2 separate regions of the Homo sapiens genome follow, and region 1 is linked to region 2. The links come from fine-mapping of genetic effects on gene expression. A gene starts in region 2. The other region holds a variant in brackets. All regions are shown on one strand. Distances are from middle to middle. Region 1 overlaps PRDX6-AS1 (PRDX6 antisense RNA 1). Region 2 holds the start of PRDX6-AS1 (PRDX6 antisense RNA 1).

Evidence for each region. PIP is the estimated chance that this variant, and not a neighbour inherited with it, causes the effect.
Region 1: its variant is fine-mapped to the expression of PRDX6-AS1 in whole blood (TOPMed, PIP 0.99).

Annotation. Positions count from the first base shown.
Region 1 is chr1:173,416,720-173,424,719 of GRCh38, forward strand. It overlaps PRDX6-AS1 (PRDX6 antisense RNA 1), which reads right to left. Exons shown (of 2, transcript NR_125960.1): 2 at 1,070-1,903. The region is part of intron 2 of LOC100506023 (a long non-coding RNA gene); the gene reads right to left. It also overlaps a transcript of TNFSF4 not described here. Among named protein-coding and RNA genes, the nearest start is that of PRDX6-AS1, 41 kb to the right of the region's middle. RefSeq lists enhancers at 1,463-1,802, 3,561-3,660. The variant G/GA (reference allele first, on the strand shown) is at 4,409.
Region 2 is chr1:173,456,253-173,464,792 of GRCh38, forward strand. It overlaps PRDX6-AS1 (PRDX6 antisense RNA 1), which reads right to left and starts at 5,110. Exons shown (of 2, transcript NR_125960.1): 1 at 4,126-5,110. It overlaps LOC100506023 (a long non-coding RNA gene), which reads right to left. Exons shown (of 3, transcript NR_037845.1): 2 at 6,072-6,202. RefSeq lists an enhancer at 3,840-4,339.

The DNA.
Region 1 (8,000 bases), 40 kb before region 2:
CTGAATTGCTGGGACCACAGATGTGCGCCAGCATGCCCGGCTAATTTTTGTATTTTTAGTAGAGACAGGGTTTCGCCATGTTGCCTAGGCTGATCTCAAACTCCTGGACTCAAGCGATCCACCCGCCTCGGCCTCCCAAAGTGCTGGGATTACAGTTGTGAGCCATTGTGGCCGGCCACAAATGTTATTTTTAAAGCACACACACATTCCTGGTGGAAGGTAAGTATCCTCAGCACCCATTTCCTGAAACGTCTTTTAATCATCACAATATGGAGATTGTATTATTATCTCTATTTTAAAGACAGGGCAGTATTTTCCTGGGGCAGTATTTCCCAAATTGTGTCCCACGGAATGCTAATAACAGTACTAAGAGGTAAGTGGTGCTCACTTTTGAAAATGCTCCTATAGCCAAATATTTTTGAGAAATAATGCAGAGGAATGGTGCATTTGTGAGCATAGACCCAGGAGTCAGAGACACCTCGGTTTGGGGCCGAGCCCCACTGATTATCAGCTTTGCGGGTGCAGCAATAATAATCCTAGCTTCCTTATCTGGGATGTGGGAATAATGAAATACCCGCTTCATAAGGTTCGTGTGAGGGTTGATGTTATGAGGTAACAAATGTAAAGCTCTTAGCACATAGCTGGTGCAAAAAAAGTCTTCAATAAACAAGAACTCTTATTGGCATTGTAGCAGGTTAAATATTGTTAACATCTTACAGCTAGACCTATAATTTTTTTAGGGAGAGATCAATTTTGTTTAGGAAAACATCTTAATAAACCACGTGGAAGCGTGGCCAGCAATGAGACTCTGAAGTTACAAGCCATCAATAACCAAGACCAAAACCTAGAAAACCAAGTTTGAAAAAGCCAGAGTCCCATAGAGGGTGAGTACTGATTTCTCTCATTGCCTGACATTATAACAAAGAGGTTCAGGGCACAAAGATGAGATCTCACCTCCGTCTTCACCTCCCTCTTTTTAGTACTACTCCATCCTTTACAGATTCACCTACACACACTCACACATGCACACACACCACTCCCTTTTCAGGAAGAAAGCTACAGGCTCCAGTTAATTAGAAATTCTACTATTTCAGCTTTATTACTTCCTCTTTACTCTCTGAACTTTAAAGGAACACATTTCTGTAAAGTTTAAATTATTTCAATGAGGTGTATTACCTTTTTAACTGGGGGTGGGAGGGAAGCACTTTTTTTTTCTTTTTTTTTTTTTTAATGTTGAAGACTCCACTCAGTCATTTGAGCTCCAGGAAGCCTTCCCTGGCCACCCATAAGTTAAGAGAAGAGCCCCTCTTCTGAGCTCCCAGAGCACCCACTTCATACCTATGCTATAGAACACACCGCCAAGGACGGAAATTATCCAAAGGTTTGTGTCCATTGATTGCCATGCCAGGCATCCAGCTCTGCTGAAGCACGCAGGGGCCCTGACTTCCTCATTAGGTATTCTCAACACCTCCACCAGCAGCTGGTAGGCAGCAGAGCTATTGTTACTGAGCTGCCCACGGCACCAATGGATCTATGAATGAACCTGAACGTCTTCCCTGGAGAAAAGCACTTGCTTGTCAAGGGAGGAACAGGGGTCTGAAATGCTAACCCCTGCCCTATAGTATGGGTGTGCATACGGTGCACCTTCCAAAGCCCAGAGTGGCATTCTTATTACATCCCGGAAACCCCCTGGTCAGGGGCTTTTGGGGTGACATCCAATATGTAAATACCAGGGTCGGGTCCTGCTGAGTGGCATAACAGTGCCATATGTGAAAGTTCCACCAGCAGCAGAGGGCTCTTTCATTAGTCATTTCACTGCACACAGCTGTAAGGAATCTGGCGAAGCTTGATTTGGCTGGGAGGAGTGCATTTTCCACTTGTAGGCGTCTTGAAAACTTTCATACTAAAAAAAAAAAAAAAATTAACAACAAGAAAATCATCATAGTCCAAAATGAGAAGCCAGAAATTGAAGGTGGAGAGCCAGGGTAGCAAACATAATGGAGGGACTCCAAGACCGGGCTTCCACCAGGACCCTACACTGACTCACAGATGTGTAATGGTCATGGCGAGCCTTACATGTAAACAGAGATCCCAACATGTCCCAGAGGTAGTGGCTGTGGAAGCCTGGGCAGATGCCAGGCAGTATTCTAAGGTTAAGCATTGCTATGGTTTGAATGTGACCCCCAAATTTCATGTGCTGGAAACTTAATTCCCAAATTCACATATCGATGACATTTGGAGGTAGGGCCTTTGAGAGGTAATTAAGATTAAATAAGGCCATGAGTGTGTGGCCCCCACGGTGGGGCTGGTGGCTTTATAAGAAGAGTTAGAGTAACCTGGCCGGGTGCTGTGGCTCACGCCTGTAATCCCAGCACTTTGGGAGGCCAAGGCGGGCAGATCACGAGGTCAGGAGATCGAGACCATCCTGGCTAACACGGTGAAACCCCATCTCTACCAAAAAAATACAAAAAAATTAGCCGGGTGTGGTGGCGGGCACCTGTAGTCCCAGCTACTTGGGAGGCTGAGGCAGGAGAGTGGCCTGAACCTGGGAGGCGGAGCTTGCAGGGAGCTGAGATCACACCACTGCACTCCAGCCTGGGTGACAGAGCAAGACTCCGTCTCAGAAAAAAAAAAAAAAAAGAAGAGTTAGAGTAACCCAAGCGGACAAGCCTGCTCTTGCCCACTTGCCATGTGATGCCCTCTGCCACGTGAGGATGCAGCAAGAAGGCCTTCACCAAATGCCAGCACCATGTGCTTGGACTTCCCAGCCTCCAGAACTATAAGCAATAAATTTCTTGTCTTTATAAATGATCCAGTCTGTAGAATTCTGTTACAGCAATGGACTAAGACAGGCATGATTTGGGGTACAGAGAAGGAAAACTGAGAGGTCACAGAAGAGAGAGGAGGGTGGAAGCTGGGGGAGAGGCACTGATGGAACCAGCTTCCACCCTTCCCTGCAGGGCTTGGAAAGACCCATGAGGACACAAGGGAGAATAAAAGGAAGCAGCCCTGATTGCCATGGCTGGGTCAGGGTCAGGAGGCTAGGACTGCTTTATGTCCCTGCTATAATGGACTTATGGGTTTTTTAAGATTTTTTAAAATAGATTAACTATAGCTCCTAGAGCTGACTCTACTGATAACTTTACCCTGGACTCCCTCCCTGATTTTGACCTTAGTTTGTGTGGCGGGGGGGGGGATGAGAGGCTGCGGTCCAAATGGAATGCAGTTTGCCTGTCCTCTATCAGCATCAATGCATCACCTTTCCCCCGATTTTTACCTCATGATATATTTATGCATTTAACGCATGTTTATTGAGTGAGCTGCATGCAGCAAAATGCACGTAAAAAGCAATTTTTTTTCTTTTTTCTTTGTCCTTTCAACTCCTCTCTCTGGATTTGCCTTGTCCCTGCACTTGAGATGAAAGCTAACCAATACCACGGATTTTCTAGCCACTCTGAGCCATTAAATAAAGAGGCTCTTTAAAACAAACAAACAAAAAAAAAAGTAAAAAACAGTCTACTCAACCTGAAGCTTCTCCCCTCTCAGACTCCTTCACTTCAGGTTTGGAAACTCGGTACCAAGGAGGAAGGCATGGACTTCACCATTTTCTCTCCTCCACCTCTCGTAGCCAGCTGCTAATTCTCAAGCCTCAAGCTGTGAGAGATTGAGAACTGAGGGAAAGGACACAGTACTTGACGGCTCTTACTGTCATGACGCGGCCTTGGTGCCCTCTGGGTTTAGCATGTTTTCCAACGCTTTCCTTTCCAGCCTCACTTAGGCACATTGCAGTTAAAGAATATGGCCACCAGGTGGCAGTAAAGGCCTTTTTTTTTCCTGGCCAGTAGACCCTACCCTCCGGTTTTATATGGCTACATAATTTCTTTAAGATGATGTCAAATATGCTTTCCCTACATTTCAAAAGAAAAGAAAGTAAACACTTAAAACCACAAACTGGTCAACTTAGCAAAAACTAAATATAATTTAAAGATGATGCCCTAGGGAATAAACGTGTAAAGAAAACCTCCCAAGTTGTTAATTATGTAATTACATAACTAATTTACTAAGTCTTTCTCTTCCTCAAATTATTACTGTGTAAGTCTAAATCTTATTCCCAGATCTTGATCATAATTTACCTTCCCTTAATTTAGAGTCAGAAACTTTTCCCCAAAGGCTCCTGTATGGCCAATTGTCATTTAAAGACCTTTATTAATAACAACTATTATACTAATAATATCCATTTGTTTTTTACTATGCACCAGTTACAGTTATGTTACAGTCACTACTTATAGTTATGTGTTGACTACACACAGACTACACACTGCGATAAAACCTAACTGTGGTATTATTTTATCCTCACACCATCCCTACATGTCACCACCACTGCCCCTGCCCGCATTTAGGGTTGCCA[G/GA]AAAAAATATAGGCCGCACAGTTAAATTTGAATTTCAGATAAACAACAAATAATGTTTTAGCATATGTCCCACGCACCATTAGGGACATAGTTATTGCATGGGACATAAATATTTTATGGGACATATTTACACTAAAAAATAATTATTTATCTGAAATTCAGCTTTAACTGGACATCCTAGATTCTTATTTGATAAATTTGGCAACCTGACCCCCATTTTATGGATAAGGAAACTGAACCTCCAGGAAGGTAAGCAATGTAATGAAGGCTAAGAGCTGGTAAGCAGCACTGTGGAGCTGTGAACCCCAGACCCTCCGAACCGGGTTCCCTCCCTACCATACTGCCCCTCCTTGTTGTCTAGGGAATTATTCTCATCTGCCAGCTGCTGGTAAAATAATCTGCCATCCTCAAGTAAAATAATCCTTGTCACTGTTCTCAACTAAATAGAAGAAAAGCTTTTCTTCCCAGCCAAGAAAGAGTCACTGAAAGACAAATTCTCATGACTGATTTTCCCGTATCTGTCTTCCTTGCCAATTTATCGTTTCTGGAAAAAAAAAAATGAAAATCCCCCTTATTTTTTTCCCCACTGATATTCATATTTTTGTAACTATTTCAAGGCTACCTCTAGTAAACTGAAATGTAAATACAACAGTCCATCCCAATTTGTTCTTCTGGCTTAATTACCTGAAACATAATACAGTAATTTAGAACTACGCATAAAGAAAAAAACAAAACAAAATAAAACTGTAATGTCATTGCACTATGAGGATATCAAAACTTTTTGTTGTTGGTTTTTTCCCAGCCATATCTTCCAGTATTTGAGTGATGACAGACCTAGTCAACTTGTATTCCTCTGCAGGATTTACTGTCCTGCACATAATAGGAAAATAAAGCCATGTTACAGTCCCACAGCTATACGAGAACACCTCTCCCCCACAATGTCAAGGTTAGTCCCTAGCAGAAAAAAAAGCGGCAACAAAGGAACGTTTAAAGGAGTTTAAACATGCAAAGTGCTTAGAACAGTGCCAGCCAAATAGTAAGTGCTCAGTAGATGTGAGCTAGTGTTATTATTAACACCTAGAGACATTACCAATGGCCATTACCAATGGGTCTAGAGACCCAGAAATGGCTTTGCATTAATAACTAACAAGCCATAAACAATGCAGAATGAGAGAGAAGGAATGGTGGTGCCCAGAGTGAAAAAAAAAAAAAAAAAAAGGACTGGGAGAGAATGGAGGAAGGCCATTCATTCATTCAACAACCATGTCATGAGTGAGTGCTATGTGCCAGCCTTAAAGGGATGGAGAGCCCAGTGAGAGAGGCAGGTCTTTGTAGTATGGTGTGATAACTGTGCACTGGAGAGAGCAATACCCAGTACGGCATGGGAGTACAGAAAAGGGGAACCTTGGCCAGTCTAGGAGGTCAAAATGAGGTCAGGGAAACTTCACAGAGTGAGACCTCAGCTGACTCTTACTGACCCAGTAACTGCTGACCAGGCTGAGGCTGAGAAGATGGCGCATTCCAAGCAGTGGAGGCAACAGCAAGCAAAGGTGCAGACTTAAAACAACAAAGTGTGTGCAGAGGAGGGGGAGACAATTCAGTTCCCTTCTCTTTGGAAAACCAGTCAATTACCAAGCAATGTAAAGTTACTGGAATGACGGAACACCCATATGTGGGCCCCTGCACAAGGAAGTACAAATGCAAGACTTCTTCCATCTTCAACCAACAGGAGTAAGACGGTGGACACCACCAGATGAGAGAGTTGATGTCGTGGAGAAAGGAGGTTTGTCAGCTTCATGTTAACCACTGAAGAGATGTTACATGTTACATACATATATATATGTACATTTTTTTTTTTTTAGACAGAGTCTCGCTCTGTTGCCCACACTGGAGTGCAGCGGTGAGATCTCGGCTTACTGCAACCTCCGCCTCCCAGGTTCAAGCGATTCTCCTGCCTCAGCCTCCTTACATGTTATATCTTAATTAAGTTATTAATATCACTTGCAAATAAATTCATTCTCACCAATACATGGGGCTTTCACATTGATCCTCATAAGCACCCTCCCTAAATCTAAAATAATAGATTTTATTACTCCCACCTTACATATGAGAAAATGGATTTCCACAGGGATTAAAAGATTTTTCTCAAAATTATATAGCCAATAACAAGAAGAGTAGAAGTTGATCTTCAATGTTGTCCATTATTTTATTCCCCTTCTTTTCCACCTCTTTAATTAAAACACAGCCTTCAAGACCCTGCTTGAATCCCACTTCCTCTGCAAAGCTCTCCCTCCCTCCCCCACAGCACATGACATAGAGCCTTTCATATACCAAGTATGCAATAACAGCTTGATGACTGGTGATGATGATCAGGTAGCAACTGTCAGCCTGTGTGGATGCCTTGTGACCACTGGATAAAGGGGCAACTGCAGTGGTCTGGACTCAGGAAAGAAGTCCCCTAGGAAGGACTAGGCTTTGAGCCAGGTCTTGAAGAAACTGGTAGCTGTGAACTGGTGGAAGCATATGGGGTAGGAAGGAGAACATCCCACCGGTGATGGAGAAGTAACAATTTGTACAAAGACACGGAAGCAAAGTGAACCAAAACTATGCCTATCTTCTATGTCTGCCTTTAATATTATCCTTGGCAATTCCTTTATAATTAGAGAGTGTCTTCATCTGTTTATGCCACTGTAACAAAATACCTGAGACTGGGTAATTTGTAAACAATAAAAAATTTATTTCTCACAGTTCTGGAGGCTGGGAAATCCAAGATCAAGGTGCCAGCAGGTTTGGTGGCTGGAAACGGCCTGGTCTCTGCTTCCAAGGAGGTACCTTACGCACTGTGTCCTGACATGGTGGGAGGGACAGAAGGGCAAAAAGGGGGGTGAATGCTGTATCCTCATGGCAGAAGAACAGAAAAGAACAAACACTCCCTCAAGCTCTTTTGTAAGGACCCTAATTCCATCCAGGAAGGCTCTGCTCTCAGGACTTAGGCCTGTCGTCTTAATACTATCACATTGGTGATTAAGTTTTAACATATGAACTTGGGGGAACACATTCAGACCACACCAGAAAGAAATAGGCAATTCTAGACAAAGTATTTCTTCTCTTTACTTGCTTCTTTAGTCCACACGTATTTTGAGTGCTTCTCATGGGCAAGACTCTATGGGAAGCATAAAGATGAATCAAACACAGCTCTTCCCTCGTGAACAATGTGTTCACTAAAAGAGGAAGACCTATGCATGACTATCTATAACGAAAGGCACAAACTGGAAACAGCCATAAACAAGCTATGAGCTGCTACTAGTGCTTATCACTTCAAAGTAGGGATCTTTGTGGGCCGGTGGGCCCAATGTGATTCTATGAGTTCTTATGAAAGGGGTGCATTAAAGCCAGAGAGAAACTGTCTGTTCCCTTCCTGGAAGCAATGCTGTTGATGCTGGATTTTCAAGGGTACAATTTTCACGGCTTAAGATAGGTTCTGGGCCATTCTAGGCAGAGGGAACCACATGAGAAAAGATATAAAGGTGGAAAAGTTCCAGGTCCCACAAAAAAGAGTGAGGAATTTGGTTTTACTGCAACATTAAGATAA
Region 2 (8,540 bases):
AGAGTAGCCAGTGAGAGGCAAACAAACAAACAAAAAAAAAAAATAGGAGAGTTTGGTGTAACGGAAGCAGAGAAAGAAGTGTTTCCAAAAAAGTAATCAACTCTGTCAAATGCATTGAAATTGAAGAAAAGCTTCCATTGGATTTTCTTTTTTTTTTTTTTTTCCCAGTCAGGTTCTCACTCCGTTGCCCAGGCTGGAGTGCAGTGATGTGATCTCAGCTCACTGCAGCCTCAACCTCCCAGGCTCAAGTAATCCTCCCACCTCAGCCTCCCCAGTAGCTGTGTCTACAGGTGCACACCACCACGCCTGGCTAATTTTTTGTATTTTTTTTTTTTTGTAGAGATGGGATTTTGCCATGCTGCCCAGGTGCTGGTCCCAAACTCCTGGGCTGAAGTGATCCACCTACCTTGGCCTCCCAAAGTGTTGGCATTACAGGCATGAGCCACCACACCCAGCCTGGATTTAACAAGATGTATTTCAATGTATGAAGGAAGAGAAAGAAAGAAACATGAACAGAGAAATAAGTGGTAGGAGAAGGAAACGTTGGGTCAAACTAGAAGTTTTAAACCTGAAAAAATATGAAAACTAAGTTGTCTAATATAACAGCCACTAGCCACAGGTGGCTGCTGAGGACTTGAAATGTGGCCAGTATACCATATGTAGAAAGCTGAAACTGGATCCCTTCCTTACACCTTATACAAAAATTAACTCAAGATGGATTAAAGACTTAAATGTAAGACCTAACACCATAAAAATCCTAGAAGAAAACCTAGGCAATACCATTCAGGACATGGGCATGGACAAAGACTTCATGACTAAAATACCAAAAGCAATGGCAACAAAAGCCAAAATGGACAAATGGGATCTAATTAAACTAAACAGCTTCTCCATAGCAAAAGAAACTATCATCAGAGTGAACAGGCAATCTACAGAATGGGAGAAAATTTTTGCAATCTACCCATCTGACAAAGGGCTAATATCCAGAATCTACAATAAACTTAAACAAATTTACAAGAAAAAAACAACCCCATCAAAAAGTGGGCAAAGGATATGAACAGACACTTCTCAAAAGAAGACGTTTATGCAGCCAACAGACAGATGAAAAAATGCTCATCATCACTGGTCATCAGAGAAATGCAAATCAAAACCACAATGAGATACCATCTCATGCCAGTTAGAATGGCGATCATTAAAAAGTCAGGAAACAACAGATGCTGGAGAGGATGTGGAGAAATAGGAATGCTTTTACACTGTTGGTGGGAGTGTAAATTAGTTCAACCATTGTGGAAGACAGTGTGGTGATTCCTCAAGGATCTAGAACTAGAAATACCATTTGACCCAGCAATCCCATTACTGGACATATACCCAAAGGATTATAAATCATTCTACGATAAAGACACATGCACATGTATGTTTATTGTGGCACTATTCACAATAGCAAAGACTTGGAACCAACCCAAATGCCCATCAATGATAGACTGGATTAAGAAAATGTGGCACATATACACCAAGGAATATTATGGAGCCAAAAAAAAAAAAAGGATGAGTTAATGTTTCTTTGCAGGGACATGGATGAAGCTGGAAACCATCACTCTAAGCAAACTATCACGAGGACAGAAAACCAAACACTGCATGTTCTTACTCATAAGTGGGAGTTGAACAATGAGAACACATGGACACAGGGCAGGGAACATCACACACCTGGGCCTGCCGGGGGGTGGGGGGCTGGTGGAGGGATAGCATTAGGAAAAATACCTAATGTAAATGACGAGTTGATGGGTGCAGCAAACTAACACGGCACATGTATACCTATGTAACAAACCTGCACGTTGTGCACATGTACCCTAGAACTTAAAGTATAATAATAAAAAATATGTATATATAAAAGAAATGTGGCTAGCATAAATTTAGATATGCTATAAGTATAAATTACACACCACATTTCGAAGACTCAGTATGAGAAAATATATACAATATCTCATCAATAATTTTTACATCAATTATAGGGTGAAATAATATTTCACATACATTGGGTTAAATGAAATATATGACAATTAAATTTACTTTTTTTTCTTTTTACTTTTTTAATATGGCTACCATAAAATCTTAAATTACATATGTGGCTCACATCATATTTATACTGGAGAGAGTTGTACTAGAGCATGTTTGTATGCTAATATAATGATCTAGTAGAGAATCAGGAATTGATGATGTAGAAAGAGAAAGAGTAGGGAAAAGAGAAAAGACCTTTAGAGCTTAAGCAGATAAGGGGTGATGGACATCATACATAGATCAACAAACAAGTAGAGAAAGGCATGTACATAGATAATATTTGTTGTATCCTTTATACAGAAAGAACTCACTCTTTTTAAACAGCCATGAAGCAGTAATAAACATTTATCAAGGACTAAGTCACAAATAAAATCTCAAATATCTAAAGGTACAGATCACATGGTAATCAAACAAGAAATCAGTATGAAAAAGACAGCAAACTCAATCTAATTACATGGACATTATAAAACAGTTTTCTAAACAACTCTTGGATTAAAGTGGAAATCAGTACTAGAACACAGACTGTTTGAAATTACCAATGAAACAACACTCCATTTCAAAGCTTATGGGATACAACCAAAGTCTTAACTCAAAGGAAAATTCAGAGCTTTCAGTGATCTTCTTAATATATACGGAAGATTGAAAGTAAATGATCTAAGCACCCAGTTCAAGAAAGTTTAAAAAAATTAAAAAAAAAAAAATAAGCCAACAGAGAATAGGAGAAACTAATAAAAATAAAATTCAAAATTAATGAACTAGAAAGCATGGCAAAACAAAATTGCATAGACCTGGTAAATAAAGCAATTGTTTTATTTTGTTTTTGTTTTTAGAATACAACATACAAACCATTAATAAGTGTGAACAAGAAAAAAAGAGAAAGAAAATGCAAATATCTACAACAAGGAAAGAAAAATAATTCAGCATTAAGAGATTTTTAAAATTCTAAAATTCCAAATACCCACCAGTAAATTAGAAAATCTACATGAAATAGACAAATTTTTAGCAAAATGCAGATTACTAATATTAGCTCATGAAGAGAGGAAATTATCCCAATAATCAAAGAAAAACTTGAAAATGCAGCAAAAGCTCTAACTTCAAAAAAAGCACCAGTTCCAGTTTGTTTTATCAGTAAGTTCTAATACATCATAAAGAACAGATAATTCCTGGATTATTTAAACATTCGGCCAGTACAAACTATGAAAAACTTCCCAATACACTTCACTGACAAATTTAATTCTGATACTAAAGTATACTAAATACTAAACAATAGTAAAAATAAAATACATATTGGGTTATTCTTAAAATCCAAAGTCAAATATTAGCAAGTCTAATTAAGAATGCTTTTGACAGCAAGTAACAGAAACCCTGACTCCAATTATCTTTAAAAATGAGGGTATTTCTGAACTCAACAGAAATCTAGAAGTAGGATAAGTTTTAGGATGGGTTGTGGTTTAATTACGTTATTAAGAACCCAGGGGAGGGGGGCCAAGTTGGCCAATTAGAAGCAGCAGCTGTCTGTGGCACTCAGGGAGAGGAAGAAAGGAGCAAGTGAATATAGCACCTTCAACTGAAATATCCAGGCACTCACACTGGGACTGATCACAGAAACAACTCGACCCATGGAGAAGAGAGAAAAGCAAGGTGGGGCAATAGCCCACCTGGGAGCAACATGAAGCCAAGAGAACTCCCACCCCCAGCCAAGGGAAGCAGTGAGTGAGTGTGCAACCCCAGGAAACCACGCTTCTCCCACGGATCTTTGCAACCCACAGATCAGGAGATCAGTGCACCCACACCACCTTGTGCACCCACATCACCAGGGTCTTGGGTCCCACACACAGAGGTGTGTTGAGTCTCAGCAGAGCAGCTGCTCAGGCATGCATAGAGATCCAGGAACTTTACATATTCCGGCCCCAGGATCCCCAACAGAGGTGTCTGTAACTCAGGCAAGGTGGGAGGTCTGTACATACCCCTAGGAAGGGGGCTGAATCCAGGGAGCCAAGCAGCATCAATCTGTGGGTCCCACTTCCACAACACCTCACAAAATAAGACCTACTGGCTTGGAATATAGCCTACCTGTGATGGGACAGAGTCCCCAGTGGGAGGGGTGGGCTGCCATCTCTACTGTTTGGTTGACTCAGCCATTTCAGTCTATGGGCTTCGGAGAATCCATATGGTTCAAACAAGGAAGGGTCTTCCCAGAACACTACAGCGGCATTGCCTGAACGTGGCCAGGTTGCTTCTTTAAGTGGGGCCCCAATCCATTCCTCTTCACTGGGAGGGACCTCCCAACCGGGGCCTCCAGCCATCTCTGCCTGTATTCCACAAACGGATCCTGATCTCTTTCTGGAATAGCATGCCCGAGGGGAGGCGAGGAGGGAAGGAGGAGGGGAGGGGAGGAGGGGAGGAAAGGAGGGCCACCAAGCTGGCTGTTTGAATGACTCAGCCATTCCAACCAGTGGGCTTTAGAGAGTCCAAGCCAACAAGGGCAGAAGCAGTTTCCCAGCACAACAAGGCTGTTCTATTGAGGCATGGCCAGATGGCTTCTTTAAGTGGGACCCTGATCCACTTTTCCTTGACGGGTAGATCATGCCAGCTGGGGTATCCAGCCACCCCCGCCCATGTTCTGTGGCCAACAGACTTCTAATTTTTCCCTGGGACAGAGTGCCCAGAGGGGAAGGCGGGCCACCAACTTGGCTGTTGGGCACCTCAGCCAGTTCAGCCTGTGGGCCTCGGAGAGCCCAAACCAACAAGGGGCTGATGGGATCCCCAACACAGCACAACTGCTCTATCAAAAACAGCCCAACTGCTTCTTTAAGTGGATCCCTGATCCCGTTCCTCCTGACTAGGTGAGATGTCCCAACTGGGGTCTCCAGCCACCCCCTACATACTGTGTGCTCATGCTGGCAACAGGACAGTACCGCCCTGGGATGGAGCTTCCAGGGGAAGGGGCAGGCTGCCATCTTTGCTGTTTCATAGCATTCACTGCTGATACCTCCAAGTACAGGAAAAACTGAGGCAACCAGGGTGTAGAGTGGACCCCCAGCTAACTGCAGCATCTGTAAGGAAGAGTAAACAGACTGCTAAAAGAAAAAGATGAAAAAACAAAACAATCCATGAAAGCGCCATCCAAAGGTCAGCAACCTCAAAGATCGAAGATAGATAAGCCCACAAAAATGAGAAAGAATCAACGCAAAAATCTTGAAAATTCAAAAACCCAGAGAGCCCCTTTTCCTCCAAATGATCACAACACCTCTCCAGCAAGGGCTCAGAACTAGGCTGAGCCCAAGATGACAGAAGTAAGCTTCAGAATGTGGACAAAAGCCAATTTTGCTGAGCTAAAGGTGTATGTCCTAACCAAAGGCAAAGAAGCTAAGAATCATGATAAAACAATGCAGGAGCTGACAGCCAAAACAGCCAGTATAGAAAGGACCATAACCGACCTCACAGAGCTGAAAAACATACTACAAGTACTCGCAATGTAATCCCAAGTATTAATAGCAGAATAGACCAAGCAGAGCAAAGAATCCCAGAGCTTGCAGACTATCTCTCTGAAATAGGACAGGTAGACAGGAATAGAGAAAAAAGAATGAAAATGAATGAATAAAACCTCTGAGAAATATGGGTTTATGTAAAAGGACCAAACCTACAACTGATTGGGGTACCTGAAAGAGACAGGAAGAATAGAACCAAGTTGGAAAACATACTTCAGGATATCATCCAGGAGAATGACCCCAACCTAGCAAGATAGGCCAACATTCAAATTCAGGAACAAGAGAACCCCAGTAAGATAACTATTCAAGAAAATCATCCCTAAGATATGTATCAGCAGATTCTCCAAAGTCAAAATGAAAGAAAAAATGTTGGCTGGGCACAGTGGCTCATGCCTGTAATCCCAGCACTTTGGGAGGCCAAGGTGGGTGGATTACTTGAGGTCAGGAGTTCAAGACCAGCCTGGCCAACGTGGTGAAACCCTGTCTCTACTAAAAATACAAAAATTAGCCAGGTGTGGTGGCACATACCTTTAGTCCCAGCTACTCAGGCTACTCAAGAGGCTGAGGCAGGAGATTTGCTTGAACCCAGGAGACAGAGGTTGCATTGAGCTGAGATCGTGCCACTGCACTCCAGCCTGGGTGACACAGTGAAACTCCATCTGAAAAAAAAAAGAAAAAAGAAAAAAATGTTAAGGACAGCCAGAAAGAAAGACCAGGTCACCTACAAAGGGAAGGCCATCGGACAAGCATTGGGCCTCTGAGTGGAAACCCTACAAGCCAGAAAAGATTGGGGGCCAGTATTCAATATTCCTAAAGAAAAGAATTTCCAACCCAGAATTTCATATGCAAACTAAGTTTCATAAGCAAAGGAGAAATAAGATCCTTTTCAGACAAACAAATGCTGAGGAAATTCATCACTACCAGACCTGCCTTACAAGAGCTCCTGAAGGAAGCACTAAATATAGAAAGGAAAAACCATTACCACTACAAAAACACACTGACATACCAATGATACAATGAAGTATCCACATAAACCTGCAAAATAACCAGCCAGCATCATGATGACAGGATCAAATCCACACATAAAAATGCTAATCTTAAATGAAAATGTGCTAAATGCCTCCCAAAAAAAGATACAGAATAACAAGCTAGATAAAGAGCCAAGACCCATTAGTATGCTATCTTCAAGAGACGCATCTCACGTGCAAAGACACACATAGGCTCAAAATAAAGGGATAGAGGAAAATTTACCAAGCAAATGGAAAACAGAAAAAAACAGGTGCAATCCTAGTTTATAACAAAACAGACTTTAAATCAACAAAAATCAAAAAAGATAAAGAAGGCCACTACATAACAGTAAAGGGTTCATTTCAACAAGAAGAGCTAACTAACCTAAGTATATATACACCCAATACAGGAGCACCCAGAAAAAGAAAGTACTTAGAGACCTTCAAAGAGACTTAGACTCACACACAATAATGGTGGGAGACTTTATCACCCCACTGACAATATTAGGCAGATCATTGAGACAGAAAATTATCAAAGACATTCAAGACCTCAACTCAGCTCTGGATCAAGTGGGCCTGATAGCTATATACAGAACTCTCCACTCCAAAACAACAGAATATACATTCTTCTCATCGCCACAGCACTTACTCTAAAATTGATCACATAATTGGAAGTAAAACACTCCTTGGCAAATGCAAAAGAACTGAAAACATACCAAAGAGTCTCTCAGACCAAGGTGTAATCAAATTAGAACACAAGATTAAGAAATTCACTCAAAACCATATAACTACATGGAAAATGAACAATCTGCTCCCGAATGACTTTTGGTTAAATAATGAAATTAAGGCAGAAATCAAGAAGTTCTTTGAAACCAATGAGAACAAAACTACAATGTCCAGAATCTCCAGAATGCAGCTAAAGCACTGTTAAGAGGGAAATTTATAGCACTAAATGTCCACATCAAAAAGCTAAAAAGATCTCAAGTTAACAACCTAACATCACAACTAAACAAACTAGAGAAAAAAGAGCAAACCAACCCAAAGTTAGCAGGAGACAAAAAATAACCAAAATCAGAGTAGAACTGAAGAAGACAGAGACATGAAAAACCCTTCAAAGAATCAATGAATCCAGGAGCTGGTTTTTTGAAAAAAATTAATAAAATAGATAGACTGCTAGCTAGACTAATAAAGAATAAAAGAGAAAAGATTCAAATAAACACAATCAGAAGTGATAAGGGTGATATCACCACTGACCCCACAGAAATACAAACAACTATCAGAGAATACTACAAACACCACTATGTACATAAACTAGAAAAATCTAGAAGAAAAGGATAAATTCCTGGACACATACACCCTCCCAACACTGAACCAGGAAGAAACTGAATCCCTGAATAGACAATAATGAGTTTGGAAATTGAAGCAGTAATAAATAGCCTACCAACTGTTGGGAAAAAGCTGAGTGTTGGGAAGAAAGCTGAGGCAGGGCTCGCATGTCTGCCACAATGTCCTCTGGAATGTGTCTAGACTTGCTGGCTCCTTGCTTCTAGCCCTCCTAGGCTCCTAGTTCGATTGTATCTTCATTATCTCAAGTAGCAGAACATGTTCCTTATAAATGCCAAACCATCACAGCTGTAGATCATGCACCTGCTCTTCTGACCTCCACATTCTCACCACCTGTTTCTCTGTTGGATTACCAATAAATAGCATGGGCTCCCAGAGCTCAGAGCCTTCACAGCCTCCATACACTAACAATGGCCTCCTGGTTCCACCTTTCTCCCTCAAACTGTCTTTTTCTCAATCCTTTGACTCTGCTGGACTTTGTCACCCCCATGACCTGGTGTTGGGTCTGATCACCCCAACACCAACAAAAAAAAAAAGCCCAGGACCAGACAGATTCACAGGTGAGTTCTACCAGAGGTACAAAGAACAGCTAATACCACTCCTACTGAAACAATTTAATATTCAAAAAGATCGAAAAGGAGGGACT